Linked DNA regions of Homo sapiens: region 1 is linked to region 2. The links come from fine-mapping of genetic effects on gene expression. Tissue or cell type: gastroesophageal junction. Region 2 holds a variant in brackets; the other region holds the start of a gene. All regions are shown on one strand. Distances are between the middles of the regions.

Region 1 (8,096 bases), 370 kb before region 2:
TTTGGCAGGCGAATGGTGGGGAATCTTGTGTCCTAAACTTTGGGAAGAAAGTGAAAAGTGGGGCTGGGCGCAGTGACTCACGCCTGTAATCCCAGCACTTTGGGAGGCCGAGGCGGGCGGATCCCCTGAGGTCAGGAGTTCAAGACCAGCCTGGTCAACATGGCAAAACCTCGTCTGTACTAAAAATACAAAAATTAGCCGGGCCTGGTGGTGCGCAGCTGTAATCCCAGCTACTAAGGGAGGCTGAGGCAGGAGAATCGCTTGAACCCAGGAGGCGGAAGTTGAAGTGAGCTGATACCGTGACATTGCACTCCAGTCTGGGCAACAAGAACGAAACTGTGTCTCCAGAAAAAAAAGAAAGCAAAAAGTGGAAACTGCAGGTCTGGAGAGAGGAGAACCAAGGAGAAGGGCTATTTCCTCTCTGGCCACAAGATAAAAAGCTGCCATCCTTCACCATCCGAGAAGCCCCGAAGCTCGGAGGGATTTCCAAAGATTGTTTAATTGATTTTTCTTCTATTTAGATGTAGATCAGTGTCTGGGGCCCAGGAATTCAGACACCCGGCTTTGTGTCCACTCAGCCCCGTGAAGGCTCCTGTCTGAAATGTGCACAAAGCCTGACACACAAGTCTTCAGAAACATGCTGTTTCTTTTTGTCTGGCTCTCCGGGGAGCGGGTGAGCAGGCAGGGCCTCGGGCACGCTCCCATCTGCAGGGTCCCGGGACCCCGTCCCTCCATCCCGTTCACGAAGTGGGCAGGAAAGAAAAAAAAAAAAGGGAAACAGCCAAAACTTTGAGGTCTGAAGTTGGGGATGAGGGGGTGATTAAAAAATGGGGGGTACAGCTGGGGACTGCCACGCTGAGGTTTCAACTTAGATTTTTCTCCAAATCTAGGATTCTGGAATGGGAACAGAGGTTACTTTAAATCAGGCAGCTCATAGGCTAGGATAAACAGGGGTTTGGCTCTGGTCTCTGCCGATCTGATTTATATAACGAGAAAACACTTCCGTCTTTCTCTCTGTGCATTGCTCCCCAGCCTGTCCCTACAAAATACTCCATCTGGAAAAGAAACTAGAAAGGTTTTGCAGACTGGCATCTTCTTCAGGGCACCAGGAATGACAGCCCCCCTCGGCCCCTAATATGCCATCTTTTCCTCCCCCAGCTGCGAGGAGATGACAGCGAGGCTCACTGTACCCCTTCCTACAAGGTCAAGATATGTTCCCCTGCCACCCCACCCCACATATTCCTGCCTGGTCCTTCCTGAACCATGAATTACCTGCCTAAAACATACCAGAGAATTCTCACTTTGGCTGTTCAGAAACCAACCTGAGTCACGATTTGTCTGAGTCAATGGAAAAGATTTTTAAAAAGGAGGGAGATCCTGGCCGGGGGTAGTGGCTCACACCTGTAATCCCAGCACTTTGGGAGGCCGAGGTGGGTGGATCACCTGAAGTCAGGAGTTTGAGACCAGTCTGGCCATCATGGTGAAACCCCATCTCTACTAAAAATAGAAAAAAGTAGCCAGGCGTGGTAGCAGGTGCCTGTAATCCCAGCTACTCTGGAGGCTGAGGCAGGAGAATCGCTTGAACCCAGAAGGCAAGGTTGCAGTGAGCCAAGATCGCGCCACTGCACTCCAGCCTGGGCAACAGAGTGAGATTTCGTCTCAAAAAAAAAAAAAAAAAAAAAAGAGGGAGATCCTAGAGTTGGATAATTCCTAGGTAAAGTAGACGCCAGCACCACATAAACAGCTGTGTCCTGGAAACCAGCTACGTTTATATCCACACCTGGCCCTCCAGACCCAGATCTGTAGCCGCTGGCCAGGGCCTGGGGCACTTCTGAGGCAATGCCACTCCCATTTCTTGGCTGTGTGACCTCGGAGAACTCCCTTCATCCCTCCTCTGGGCCTCAGTTTCCTATTCTGTTAAGTGGGCACAAGAATAACTACACGTACTATGCATGGGTTGTTGGGAGGATTCAGAGCGCTGGGGTACAAACACTCAACAGATGTGTGCTCCGGTGGTTACCATCCAGGAAGAGATGTGGATCCGACATCGTTTTTTAAGAGCTGGCTGGGCGTAGTGGCTCACGCCTGTAATTCCAGCATTTTAAGAGGCTGAGGCAGGAGGATTACTTGAGGTCAGGAGTTCGAGACCAGCCTGGCCAACATGGTGAAACCCCGACTCTACTAAAAATACAAAAATTAGCCGGGCGTGGTGGCAGCCACCTATAATCTCTGCCACTCTGGAGGCTGAGGTGGGAGAATCGCTTAAACCCAGGAGGCGAAGGTTGCAGTGGGCTGAGATTGTGCCATTGCATTCCAGCCTGGGTGACAGAGTAAGATTTCGTCTCAAAAAAAAAAAAAAGTTTTTGTTAAAAGGGGACCTTCTTGGATGCCATAACTTTCTGGGGTGTGCCCAGCTCCAAGCCTGACTCCCACCCTCCGGATCTAAGTTACCTGAACTGCAATCCAACTGGCGTTCACGGTGTGTTCCCCAAAAGGGCCAAATCCTGAAAAAACAGGAAAAGCAATATATTACCCAAGAGTGGCCCTTCCCAGTCTGCCCCTGGCCTGGCCGCTACTCCCACCTGGAGAAGCAAGAAAGGAGCTTCAGGGCGCAGCTGCCAAGGACAACATTGGGGGCCTGGTCCTGAGTTCTGGGAGCACCTGGAGGCCCGTCAGAGCCGCCGTCCTGCACCTGTCCGCTCTGAAGTCAATGAGTCCCTTCCTGTCTTCACCTCCACCTGCCCCTCATGCTCAGCCAGGGGCCAGAGGTATCTTCTGCCTCCGAAAAGGTCCTGATCCTGTCTTCACTTCCTCTGGTCCCCTTGACTCAACCTACAATTATTGTGTCACTGTCCCAAAATGCCCTGAATCGGCACCAAATGAGGAATGAGCCCTCCAGGCTGTCTAGATTTCACCTTGTCACCCTCCTCCCTGCTAGCTCAAACTCCAGGCCCCCTTTCCAAAACACGACAGTCGCCCAAGGCTGTGCTAAGTGATCTTCCTGGCATTAAGCCTGGCCACATCCCCTTTCAGGCAAGGGTGTTTCCTAGGCCCAGTTTCCAGGAGCAGGGACTGAGGCACAGAGAGGTGAAGCTAGCTGCCCAAGGTCACACAGCAAGAAGGTGAAAAAGCTGGGATTCAAATCCAGATCTGGGGCTGGGTGCGGTGGCTCATGCCTGTAATTCCAGCACTTTGGGAGGCCAAGGCGGGCGGATCACCTGAGGTCAGAAGTTTGAGACCAGCCTGGCCAACATGGTGAAACCCCGTTTCTACTAAAAATACAAAAAATTAACCAGATGGGGTGATGCGTGCCCGTAATTCCAGCTACTCAGGAGGCTGAGGCAGGAGAATCGCTTGAACCCAGGAGGCGAAGGTTGCAGTGAGCCGAGATCGCGCCGTTGTGCTCCAGCTTGGGCAACAAGAGCAAAACTCCGTCTCAAAAAAAAAAAAATACGGTCCATCTGGGCCAGTGATCCCACAGGATATGAATGCTATGCAGAGATGCTGTAGCCTGGGATAGCAGGTAGGGGCTGTGGCTCAGGAGGGGACCTCCTAACTCTATCCTTCTGTACAGCCAAAGTTTGAGTCTCAGCTCAGCCCCTTACAAACTGGATGACCTCTGTGAGCCTCAGTTTCCCTTTCTGCAAAATGGAGACAGTAAAGATGTAATCAGCTCATGCAAAAAGTGCTGGAATAAATAACCAGATAAAGGAAGGCTGGAAGGGATGGGGGCAGTGACCCTCCTCCCAATTATACACACCTGTTAAGCAGGTGCCTTGTTTCTTCCTTCTTCCCTGAATCTCCTGGATCAGCCTCAATCTCCCTTCAACAGCCACAAAACACCTGTGTGCACCTTTGCTGGATTTCCCACTCTGACCCCTCCAGACAGCAGGTCAAAATGACCCCCCCACTCCTTGACTCTGAGGCCCCAGCGGAAGTTGGCGCCCCACGTGGCCCCGAGGCGGAGTCTCAGGGAGGAGAAACAGTTGGTTTGGGGGTGGGGGGGAGTCGGTGACAGCAGGGGCCCTGACTCACCAACAAACAGCCCTGGCACAAAACACAAAAAGGTTTCCGCTGAAGACAGTCCCTGGGACAGCTGGGAGAGCCCGAGGTCCCCGGACCCCCACCTGCCCCTGCCTTGGGAGAGTAGCCCCCCAGGAGCGCAGGGCGCGGCGAGCAGTGACTGGGAGGTTCATTTGTCACTGGGACACTTCCTGCCCGCAAATCGGCCTTTGTCCCCTGGGGCCAGGGGTTGGGGGAGCGGTGTGGGGACAGGCTGGACCTCGGAAGGGGCAGGGAGGAAGGGTCCAGTCCAGCCCGCAGGCCAGACAGAGGAGGCAGGTGCCAGGAGGGTCACCATCCCCACCTTGGGAGGAAAGGACGCCAGGGGGGCCTGCGCAGCGCCGGGCTTTTGCCCGGCCCCCCAAGCCCCGCGCCCGACTGCCCTGACTCCCGACCCTGGGACCCCCAAGGCTCCTCCTCCTCCACTTTCCAGGAAGCCTGGGCTGCGCGGGGCTCCCGCGGGTGATGACACCTTCCAAATCTGAGAGGACTTCCAGCACCTGCCCCTCTCGGCCCCGCAGTCCCGGAGCCGCCCCCGCCTCTGCCCCCGGCCGCTGCCGCTACAGCCCCCATCAGCCAGCGTACCCGTCACTACCACCGCCTTCCTCGGCTGCTCCATGGCGGGATCGGGCTGTGCCTCGGACCTGCTTCTGTTGCGACTGGCGCGACAGCTGCTGCCGCTGCAGCCTCTCGGCCGCGCGAGGCCACGCCCCTGTCAAGCCCCCGGCCTCGCCCCCGGTCAGCCGCTCGGCGTGCGCGCCCCCGGGCCCGAGACGCAGCGTGCGCGCCCTGCGCCCCGCCCCCGTCGGCTAGGCCCGGTATTCCCCAGCCTCCGTTTCCCCGTCTGCAAAATGGGAACATCTTATGCCGTAGTGTGTAGCCGCTTGCACGCACTGAGCCAGGTGCTGGGGATGAGCCGGTCCTTTATTCTGCAAGGGTTCATTGAGGGCCTGCCCTATGCATGCATACTGCGCAGAATTAGGGAGGGAAGTCCCCGCGAGCAAGGCCCGTTTTCCAGATAAGGAAACTGAGGCACAGAATGCCACTTCCCCGAGGTCACTCGCCTCAAGGGGTCACAGGAGCAGCATTCAGGCCAGGAAGTTGGCGGGGGTGGGGGAGGACAGAGTAAAAAAGGAAAAACACGACAACCATATTTGTGTGGTGCCAGAAGTTTCTCTGCAGGCCCCCATGGTCCTAGGAGGCTAATGGGGGAGGGCGATTGTACCTGCTGTTCCCTCTGCCGGAACACACCCCGCAGGTACCTGCGAAGCTGGCCTCCTTCAGGCCTCAGCTCCAGTGTTCCAATGTCGCCTCCTCCCAGGGGCCCTCCTCCTGTCCTGGCTGTCACCTCCTCCGAGGGGTGAACTGTCACTTTCTCCTTGTGGCCTTCTCTGGCTATCACCTCCCTGCTATCCTATTACCTCCTCTGAGGGTTCCTTCTGGCCCTCCTTGGCTGAAATGACCTCACTGCTACCCCCCAGTGGTTCCATCTCATTCCCTGGTTCCATCCTCTTCATAGCAATAAAGCTCAGAAATAATTTCCTTTCTCTCTCTTTTTTTTGGAGACAGGGTCTCACTCTGTTACCCAGGCTGGAGTGCAGTGGCAAAATCATAGCTCTGTAACTTTGACCTCCAGGGCTCAACTGATCCTCACATCTCAGCCTCCTGAGTAGCTGGGACTACAGGTGTGTGGCACCACACCCAGCTAATTTTTGTATTTTTGTAGAGATGGGGGTTTCATAGTGTTGCACAGGCTGGTCTCGAACTCCCGAGCTCAAGCAATCCGCACACCTTGGCCTCCCAAAAGTGCTGGGATTACAGGTGTAAACCAGCACACCTGGCCAGAAATCATTTTTAATTTTTTTTAGCTTTTAAGTTTTGGGGTACATGTGCAGGTTTGTTATATAGATAAACTCGTGTCATGGGGTTTGTTGTACAGATTATTTAGTCCCCCAGGTATTATTAAGCAGAAATTATATATGTATTTATTTATTTGAGACGTAGTTTCACTCTTGTCACCCAGGCTGGAGTGCAGTGGTGTGATCTTGGCTCACTGCAACCTCTGCCTCCCGGGTTCAAGCAATTCTCCCACCTCAGCCTCCCAAGTAGCTGGGATTACAGGCGAGTGCCGCCATACCCAGCTAATTTTGTATTTTTAGTAGAGAGGGAGGTTCACCATGTTGGCCAGGCTGGTCTCGAACTCCTGACTTCAGGTGATCCACCCTTTTCAGCTCCCAAAGTGCTGGGATTACAGGCGTGAACCACTGCCTCCGGCCCCCTCCCCAGGTATTATTAAGCAGAAATCATTTAGTATGGTCACAGCCTCTCTGGTTGGCTTCCCGTTTCCTCCGACATAGAGATGAGAACTTCTAGAGGAGGAAGCGTTGTTCTGTTAGAGCTGCGTCTCAACACCCAGCACATCCCCAGGCACATTCTGCCAACATTCATCAGAGACCAGAATTCCTCTAAAAACAGGTAGAAAATGAAAGCTGAGTTTCTGGCCACATCTTCAGAAACAGGACTGGACCTTGGACTTGGGTCACGAATTTTTTTTTTTTTTTTTTTTTTAGACAGGATCTTGTTCTTTTGCCCAGGCTGGAGAGCAATGGAGCGATCACAGCTCACTGCAGCCTTAATCTCCAAGGCTAAAGCAATTCTTCCACCTCAGCCTCCCGAGTAGCTGGGACTACAGGCGCGTGCTGCCATGCCCGGCTAATTTTTATATTTTTTGTAGGGACGAGGTCTTGCTATGTTGCCTGTTTGGGTTGGTCTTGAAATCCTGGGCTCAAGCAATCCTCCTGCCTCAGCCTCCTAAAGTGCTGGGATAACAGGCATGAGCCAGAACTCCTGACTGTGTGGTTCACTGATAGCCCGTTCCACTTTGACTTTGCCATCATTCGCCAAGACACTATGGTTTTTTGTTTGTTTGTTTGAGACAGAGTCTCACTCTGTCGCCCAGGCTGGGGTGCAATAGCACGATCTAGGCTCACTACAACCTCCGGCCCCTGGGTTCAAGCGATTCTCCTGCCTCAGCCTCCTGAATAGCTGGGACTACCAGCACCTGCCACCGTGCCCGGCTAATTTTTGCATTTTTAGTAGGGATGGGGTTTCACCATGTTGGCCAGGCTGGTCTTGAACTCCTGACATCAGGTGATCTGCCTGCCTTGGCCTCCCAAAGTGCTGAGATTACAGACATGAGCCACCGTGCCCAGCTGGTACTATGGTGTTTACTGGCTCCACCCCCGAATTCCTCCAACACCAAGGGCAGAGTTCTCTAGACTGCCCCTGAGCCCTGTTTGGAAGCCCACACCCCAGGTCACACGCTCAGTGGCTATTTTGGTCTTTAGCAGCTTCAGGTAGAATGCAGAACATCAGAGAGCTGTCTGAGCTGGCCAGGGAATGAGGTCCAAGCCAAGAGGGAGAAAAGAGCAGATCAAAACACTAACCTGGCCAGGCGCAGTGGCTCACGCCTGTAATCCCAGCACTTTGGGAGGCCGAGGCAGGCGGATCACTTGAGGTCAGGAATTCGAGACCAGCCTGGCCAACATGGTGAAACCCTGTCTCTACTAAAAATGCAAAAAACTAGCAGTGAGTGGTGGCGCGTGCCTGTAGTCCCAGCTACTGGGGAGGCTGAGCCAGGAGAATCACTTGAACCCAGGAGGCGGAAGTTGCAGTGAGCTGAGATCGTGCCACTGCACTCCAGCCTAAGCGACAGAGCGAGACTCCGTCTCAGAAAAAAACAAAACAAAACAAAAAAACCACTCACCCAAAGGCAGGTTTTATAACCTGAATATGTCATACGTGCCTGGTGTGGAGTATGTGCGTTGCTAGAAGAGGGAAGGCGAGAGGGAAGTGACAGTGGATTTTAGTTTCCTCAATTGCAATGGGAGGAACGAAAACATGTAGAGTCAGCAGTGATGGGGAGAAACTGAGTCATGCCCCACTGCCCCAGTGACTGGCGTAAAGGCTAATGTTCACTCGTAGCCCTAATCATGTTTGGGCCATATTTTTGTTTTTTGAGATATGATCTTGCT
Region 2 (8,101 bases):
ATCCCAGCACCTTGGGAGGCCGAGGCGGGCAGATCACCTGAGGTTGGGAGTTCGAGACCACCCTGACCAACATGGAGAAACCCCGTCTCTACTAAAAATACAAAATTAGCTGGGTGTGGTGGCACATGCCTGTAATCCCAGCTGCTCGGGAGGCTGAAGCAGGAGAATTGCTTGAACCCAGGAGGCGTAGGTTGCGGTGAGCTGGAGATCGTGCCATTGCACTCCAGCCTGGACAACAACAGTGAAACTCCGTCTCAAAAAAAAAAAAAGGTTGAATAATTGTCCATTGTACAGGTGCACTACATTTTATTTATCCATTCATGCCTGGATGGACATTTGGATGTTGTTTCTGCTTTTTGGCTACTTTGTATTTTTGTTTTTTTGAGACGGAGTCTTGCTCTGTTGCCCAGGCTGGAGTGCAATGGTTCGATCTCAGCTCCACTGCAACCTCTGCCTCCCAGGTTCAAGTGATTCTCCCGCCTCAGCCTCCCAAATAGCTGGGATTACGTGCACCCGATATCATGCCTGGCTAATTTTTGTAGAGATGGAGTTTCACCACGTTGACCAAGCTGGTCTTGAACTCCTGACCCCAAGTGATCCACCCGCCTTGGCCTCCCAAAGTGCTGGGATCACAGGTGTGATTTTTGGCTACTTTGAACAGTGCTGTTATCAACATGCGTGTGCAGCCGGGCATGGTGGCTCATGCCTGTAAAGTCCCAACACTTTGGGAGGGTGAGGTGGGCCGATCACTTGAGCCCACGAGTTTGAGGCCAGCCTGGGCAATATGGCGAGACACTGACAAGACAATACAAAAATTAGCCAGGTGTGGTGGTGCGCAGCTGTAGTCCCAGCTACTCGGGAGGCTGTGGCAGGAAAATCTCTTGAACACAAGAGGTCAAAGCCATGACTGCATCACTGCACTCCAGCCTGGGCAACAGAGTGAGACCCTGTCTCAAAAACTAAACAAATAGGCCAGGAGCAGTGGCTGACACCTGTAATCCTAGCACTTTGGGAGGCTGAGACGGGTGGATCACTGGAGGTCAGGAGTTCGAGACCAGCCTGGCCAACATGGTGAAATCCCGTCTCTACTAGAAATACAAAAATTAGCAAGGTGTGGTGCCATGCGCCTGTAATCCCAGCTACTCGGGAGACTGAGGCAGAAGAATCGCTTGAACCCAGGAGGCAGAGGTTGCAGCGAGCCAATATCGCACCACTGCACTCCAGCCTGGAAACAACCCGTGTGTCCCAGAGTCCCAGCTCAGCCCCTCACTTTCTCACTACCTGTTCTTTTTTGTAAATAATCAATGAAAATTAAAACACAGATGTGTGTTTCAAGGAAATCTAGAATGATGGAAACTGTGTGTCTTTATGGAGATCTTTTTTCTATCAGAAGCCAATTATACATCCTTTTATGTTTTGAGGGGATGGGGTCTAAGGTGGGCTGGTGTGGGGGGATCTGGGGTTTGAGGAGAGGAGCTGCTTCCTGCAGTATTCAGCACTGACCTGGATCTCCCGGGCATGGTAGAGGACAACGAGACCCAGCAGGATGGCCGTGGAGAGGCTGATGAGGCATTTGAGTGCGAATGAGTACAGAGACTCCTGGTAAAGAGAGAGGACACAGCCAGATGGACGCTGGAGGCGGTGGGCCGGCGGCCCTCCCATCCCCTTACCCTGGCTCCCGGGCATGGGAGTCAGCTAAATGGGGCTCTTCCCAGTGGCTTCTCCCACTGTACCCTGAATTTCTGCTAGTTCCCCAGTCCTGGGGCTGCTGTGTGTGAAACAGCTTATCAGGGCTGGGCGTGCAGCATGTGCTGTATTCAGGAAGCGGTGCTCTCCTGTCCTTATTCCTGGGGACTGGGCTGACAGCAAGATGTGTCCAGTGCTTCACAGTTTATGAGGCCTGGCCTCACTTGGGCACAGCACTTCACAGTTCACAAGGCCGGACCTCATCCAGCCTCGGCACTTCAGAGTTTACAGGCTGACACAGCCCTGATCTCTCTCCATCCTCACACATTCTAGGTGGCATGAGGGAACCCACAGCCAGGCTTGTAACCTGGACGCACTCACTCTCGGAAGGGGAGGAAGATCTTCTGTTGCTCCCCAGAGCAGGCCCACTCTGGGGAACCCCTGTCCTGGGGGGAAGCCCCCCTCCGCCTTAAGCCAGGGTGCAGCCCCTTGACACCTGGCCAGGGAATGGGCTGGAACCTTCCTTCTCCATGTGTAGCCTCCCTGCTACCTTCCTGGAGGTGGGTATGCAGAAGGCCAGGGAGCCCTCACCTCCGGGAGCCCCCTAACACTCCCTATCTCCCGGGGGGCCCTGCCACCCCCAACCCCATGTCAAGAAAGCTAGGCGGGCTTGGTGGAACCTCCCTGGAGTGCCTGGGGGAGGACCACGCCTACCTTGGTGTACACCCCCCAGGACAGCTCGGTCTCCGTCACCATGACGACGATGCCAAACATGCCGAAAATGAGGGCATAGTCGCTGAGGCGCTTCCGCTTCTCGAAGAGCGCCCGCCGGTGGCCCAGGCGGTGGCCCACATTTGAGGGTTTCCCCGAGGCTCTCTGCCTGCCGGCCTCATCTTCCTCATCATCCTCGTCATCGTCCTGGTCCTGGGGCTGCCCCCGGGGGCTGCCGGGTGAGGGCCGGGCTGGCTCACTCTTGGCCACTACCACCTGGAGGCCCGGGCTGTGCGGGGGTTGTGGGGGGTGGCCGGCCTCAGGGTCCGGAGGGTCTCGTCCCAGGGCGCCCGGCCCGCTGCCCAGCGGCCGCCCCACGCTGCCATTGTAGCTGTGGCTGTTCATGACTACCTGGGTGCAGGGGTTGGGCTCGCTGCAGGCCGCCCGGGGCCCGGCATGGCTCAGCGGCTGGGCTCCTGCACTGACCTGCAAGGGCACAGAGGGACATGGTCACAGCAGGGTCCAGCTTACTGACCAGAAAGGCAAGGACCATCCCGGCCAACCCAGAACGTTCTAAGTTTGGGAGTGGCCCAGAGTGCTGACACGTGGGTTTACCATCCCAGAAACATCTGAGTCAGCCTGAATCCCTCCCCTGCTCAAAGCCCT[G/A]CCATGGCTCCCCAGTGCCATCTCACTGAAAAAATCAACCCCAGAGAGCCGGGCATGGTGGTGCAGCTCTGGTAATTGCAGCTACTTAGGAGGCCAAGGCAGAAGGACCGCTTGAGTTCAGGAGTTCGAAACTGGCCTGGCCAACATGGCGAAAACCAGTCTCTACTAAAAATACAAAAATTAGCCAGGCGTAGTGGTGCATGCCTGTAGTCCCAGCTGCGTGGGAGGCTGAGGCAGAAGAATCGCTTGAACCCAGGAAGCAGAGGCTGTAGTGAGCCAAGATCATGCCATTGCACTCCAGCCTGGGTGGCAGAGTGAGACTACGTCTCAAAAAAAAGAAAAAGAACAAAGAAACTCCAGAGCTGGGCCCAGTGGTGCACACTTGTAATCACAGCTACTCAGAGGCTGAGACTGGAGGATCACTTGAGTCTGGGGGTTTAAATCCAGCCTGGACAACATAACTAGAGCCGATCTCTAAAAAAAACAAAAACAAAAACAAATAAAACACCAAACTCTTCACTATGGCCAAGGGGCCCTCTGTATCTGGTTCCCACCTATCTCGTCCTTCTTACTCTCCCCAGACCCAATTCCTCCAGCCACAATGGTCTCCCAATCACCAGATTCCAACAAGTTCATCCTTCTCTGATACCTTGCACAGGCTGTGCCCTCTGCCTGGAATGCCCCCCTACCAGAGCCCTGCCTGCTGACTTTATGTGTATCCAAGCACCTAGAACAATGCCTAGCAAACAGATGACACTCAGGAAACACTTGCTGAACGCTGGAAGATGAAATCTACCAACGGGCTTGCCTGGGAGGAGAGGGTGGCTAATGGTATGCTTAGAAGGTGGTTTTCATCTGAGCTCATCCTCTTCCAACCTTCAGACTCTTGGATGAGTTAACCTCACCTCACCGTGCCTCCTGCATTTGTAGGCTCCTGCACTGTGGCCTATGGGACATTAGGGACCCTGGCTGTGGCTACAGAGATCCTGAGGCTCCCTCCTGCCTGGGCAGGAGGGGATCCATAATCTCCAAACAGATTCCAAACAGAATCCAAATGGTTTCCAGGAGGGGATCCATGATCTCCAAACAGTGTGGCAATGCAGGCTTTAACTCCAAGATCTAGAATCGATTCTGCAGGGCTTTGTAAGACATAAGACATGCTTGGCTGGGCTCTATGATCTCAGGCTAGCCTGTTTCCCTGCCAGGCTATTTGAAAAGCACCCTGTGTGATTACAGAGCAATGTCCTGTGGCATCATGTGTGAGAGCAGGGACCTCAATGATGGTGACATAGTCATCATGCTCACCAAGGCATTGAGAGGCTGTCTGAGACTCTGGATCCAACTTGTCAGATTCTCCCCTGCCCTGCCCAGCCCAGTATCTCAGACCCTCAAATGCACTCCTTGCCTGCTCTGTAGCCCAGGCTGGAGTGCAGTGGGGCAATCCTAGCTCACTGCAGCCTCGGACTCCTGGGCTCAAGCGATCCTCCCACCTCAGCCTCCCAAGCAGCAAGGACTACAGGTATGCGCCACCACCCCCAGCTAATGATTTATTTTTCCGAGATCAGATGAGATCGGGAGTGTTCAGGGTGGTATGGCCATAGATGATTTATTTTTATTTCTAGTAGAGATCAGGCCTTGCTACATTGCCCAGGCTGGTCTGGAACTCCTGGGCTCCAGTGATCCTTCCTCCTCGTCCTCCCAAAGTGTTGGGATTACAGGCATGAGCCACTGTGCCCGGTCCCAGGCTCCATTCTTTATGTAAATGTTCTCCTGAATCCTAATACTGCCAAGAAGTGGGTCCTGGGATTTGGCCAGTTTTACAGATGGGGAAACTGTGGCATGATGTTGTGAAAGAATCTGCCTGGGCCGGGCACGGTGGCTCACGCCTGGAATCCCAGCACTTTGGGAGGCCAAGGTGGGCAGATCATCTGAGGTCAGGAGTTCGAGACCAGCCTGACCAACATGGTGAAACCCCGTCTCTACTAAAAAGACAAAAAATTAGCTGGGCGTGGTGGCCCATGCCTGTAATCCCACCTACTCAGGAGGTTGAGACAGGAGAATCGCTTGAACCCGGGAGGCGGAGGTTGCAGTGAGCTGAGATCATGCCATTGCACTCCAGCCTGGGCAACAAGAGCAAAACTCCGTCTCAAAAAAAAAATAATAATAATACAAACCTGCCTGAAGACACACCTTCTCCTTGCAGGGAAGATTCCGGACCCGGCTCCTTTGTGAGATTTTCCCAACAAGCTGGGCAGGGGTGGGTGGAGGCCAAGTGTTATCCCCTTTGAAATGGTCACAACAGCATGCACTAGGGGTCCCCCATGTGCCAGGCCTGGGAGAAGGGTTGGGGGCAGCTGTGTGCACAGGCAGGACACTTCCCACCCCCACTGGGGGTGACAGACTAGCAGATCGTCATTCCAGGACACAGCAAGATGAGCCACATTGGCTGGGTGCAGTGGCTCACGCCTGTAATCCCAGCACTTTGGGAGGCTGAGGTGGGCAGATCACTTGAGGTCAGGAGTTTGAGGCCAGCCTGGCCAACATGGCGAAATCCTGTCTCTACTAAAACTACAAAAATTAGCCAGGTGTGGTGGTGGGCACCTGTAATCCCAGCTACTTGGGAGGCTGAGGCAGGAGAATAGCTTGAACTCGGGAGGTGGAGGCTGCAGTGAGCTGAGATCACGCCACTGCACTCCAGCCTGGGCAACAGAGTGAGACTCTGTCTCAAAAAAAAAAAAAAATGAGCTACACTGCTGAGTTGGACATGGGTGACTTTGGCTGCCGCACACATTGCAGGACCACCTATGCCTTTGTCCGGCACCCCCCACACTGTGTCTGTCCCTCACGATGTGTCTCCAGATACTGGTGTCAGCACACAGGAGTGCAAGAATTATTTCTTTGTGGCCGGGCGCGGTAGCTCATGCCTGTAATTCCAGCACTTTGGGAGGCTGAGGCGGGTAGATCACTTGAGGTCAGGAGTTCAAGACCAGCTTGGCCAACATGGCAAAACTGGCTGGGCGTGGTGGCTCACACCTGTAATCCCAGCACTCTGGGAGGCCAAGGTGGGTGGATCACCTGAAGTCAAGAGTTCAAGACCAGCCTGGCCAACATAGTGAAACCCTGTCTCTACTAAAAATACAAAATTAGCCGGGCGTGGTAGTGGGCACCTGTCATCCCAGCTACTTGGGAGGCTGAGGCACAAGAATCACTTGAACCCGGGAAGTGGAGGTTGCAGTGAGCTGAGATCATGCCACTGCATTCCAGCCTGGATAACAGAGTGAGACCCTGTCTCCAAAAAAAAAAAAAAAAAAAAAAAAAAAAAAAAAAAAAAAAAAAAATCATTCCTTCTATGGTCAGGTGACCTCATGAGTCTCAGAACTTGTCCCACCCCTTCCCACCCTCACCCATCACATCAATCAGGCTGTGGCTTCCTGTGACCAGGCACCTCACAGCTTGTAAGGCCTGACCTCCCGCAGGCCCAGCACTTCCCAGTTTATGAGACCTAGCCTCATGTGGCCTAGTACTTCCCAGTTTATCAGGCCTGACCTCCTGCCGGCCCAGCACTTCACAGTCTATAAGGCCTGGCCTTGTGGGCCCAGCATTTGACAGTTTATGAGGCTGACCTTGGCCCTGATCTTTCCGTAACCTCACAAATACTTAGGTGGGCCTTCTGCTCCGAGGCTCAAACCCCTGCCCACTGCCTGAACATCCGCTGGCTACCAGGTGGGGCTGGGAGCTTGCACTAGGGTGCACACAGGAACCCCAGATCCTGCCCTCCTCCAGGGGGCCCAGGAAAACCCAGGCACCCCTTCCACCATCCCCGAGGGTGCAAAACTTCCCCAGCTGGGGATGGGGGGCACAGGGATGAGAAGCGGGTGGCCTGGCAGACAGAACCCAGAGGGGGTGTAGGCCTCCGATGGCCTCTGCAAACGACCTTCCGAAACGCACCAATGAAGATGCAATTTGGGGATGTGACTCAGCCACCCGACGCATGGGCCAAATTCAGCCGTGTGTCTGCCATGTTCCTCCTCGCCTGGCAGCCGCGTCCTAAGGTGCCCTGGGCAGGGAGGGGGTGGGGAGGAGGAGAGAAATGGCAGGTGGCTTCCAAGAGGGTGGAGGGGTGGAGGGGTGGAGGGCTTTCCCGGCACCCACCACATTACTGTGGACCGGGCTCTTACTATGCTTTGAGCCTGAGATCAGGGTGATCACATTTAATCCCTATCACCACCGGTGAGCAAGGTGGCATTCCCGTTCCCATTTTACAGACGGGAGACAGAGCTCAGAGAAGCTCAGCACCTTTTGCCCAAGGTCACCCAGCCAGGAAAGGCAGGGACTAAATTAGTGCCATCCAGGCGTGGCAGGTGGCAGGGTCTGCTTTCTGGGAGGGGAACTGGCCTGGTCCTGCCGTCGAGAAGCCACTAGCTTGGAGCACAGAACTGATGAGTGCCTGGGCCTTCCCCATTCCTGGGTACACATCCCCTCCCCCACTGCAATCTGGGCCTAACACTGGAGTCCCTGGGACCCTCAGGGATTCCCAGAGACCCAGGAGCCCCTGGGAACCCTCAGCCAAGGTTTGGATGCCCATGAAAGGGTATGTTTTTCTGGGTAACAGCCCTGGGTTTGCCAAGTGAGGAATACCACCCTATTAGCTAGGTATATACCTAGTTCCAGCTATTCAAGAGGCCAAGGCAGGAGATCACTTCAGCCCAGGAGCTCGAGACCAGCCTGGACAACTAGCAATATCCCATCTCTAACAAACAACAAACATCCTACGGGGTGTATTTGGGTTGGAAGGTCTTTGATATTGCCTTACTTTTACTACTCTGTCTGGTCATGAGAGCTCCCTTCCCTGAAGCCTGGGGTGCAGGGGATGAGCAGAGACCCACTTCCACACCCTCCCTGGAGACACACACTTCTGGGGGAACCTCGTGTGCCTGGGGGGACCCATGAGAGCTCTTGAGGAGAGGATGAGGGTAGCAGGGAGCAGGGCTGATGGCTCCTTAGATTCCCCACCCAACAGGACATGGGAAGAGACAGA

What was found. PIP is the estimated chance that this variant, and not a neighbour inherited with it, causes the effect.
Region 1: PGPEP1 starts here. The variant in region 2 is fine-mapped to the expression of PGPEP1 in gastroesophageal junction (GTEx, PIP 0.99).

What each region holds. Positions count from the first base shown.
Region 1 is chr19:18,337,267-18,345,362 of GRCh38, reverse strand. PGPEP1 (pyroglutamyl-peptidase I) reads right to left here and starts at 4,765. Exons shown (of 5, transcript NM_017712.4): 1 at 4,648-4,765; 2 at 2,452-2,504. The coding sequence starts at 4,681. RefSeq lists enhancers at 1-588, 589-1,428, 4,208-4,895 and a silencer at 4,727-4,916.
Region 2 is chr19:17,968,590-17,976,690 of GRCh38, reverse strand. KCNN1 (potassium calcium-activated channel subfamily N member 1) reads right to left here. Exons shown (of 10, transcript NM_001386974.1): 2 at 2,401-2,883; 3 at 1,504-1,599. The coding sequence starts at 2,802. It also overlaps the pseudogene RNA5SP468. Among named protein-coding and RNA genes, the nearest start is that of KCNN1, 5.5 kb to the right of the region's middle. The variant G/A (reference allele first, on the strand shown) is at 3,064.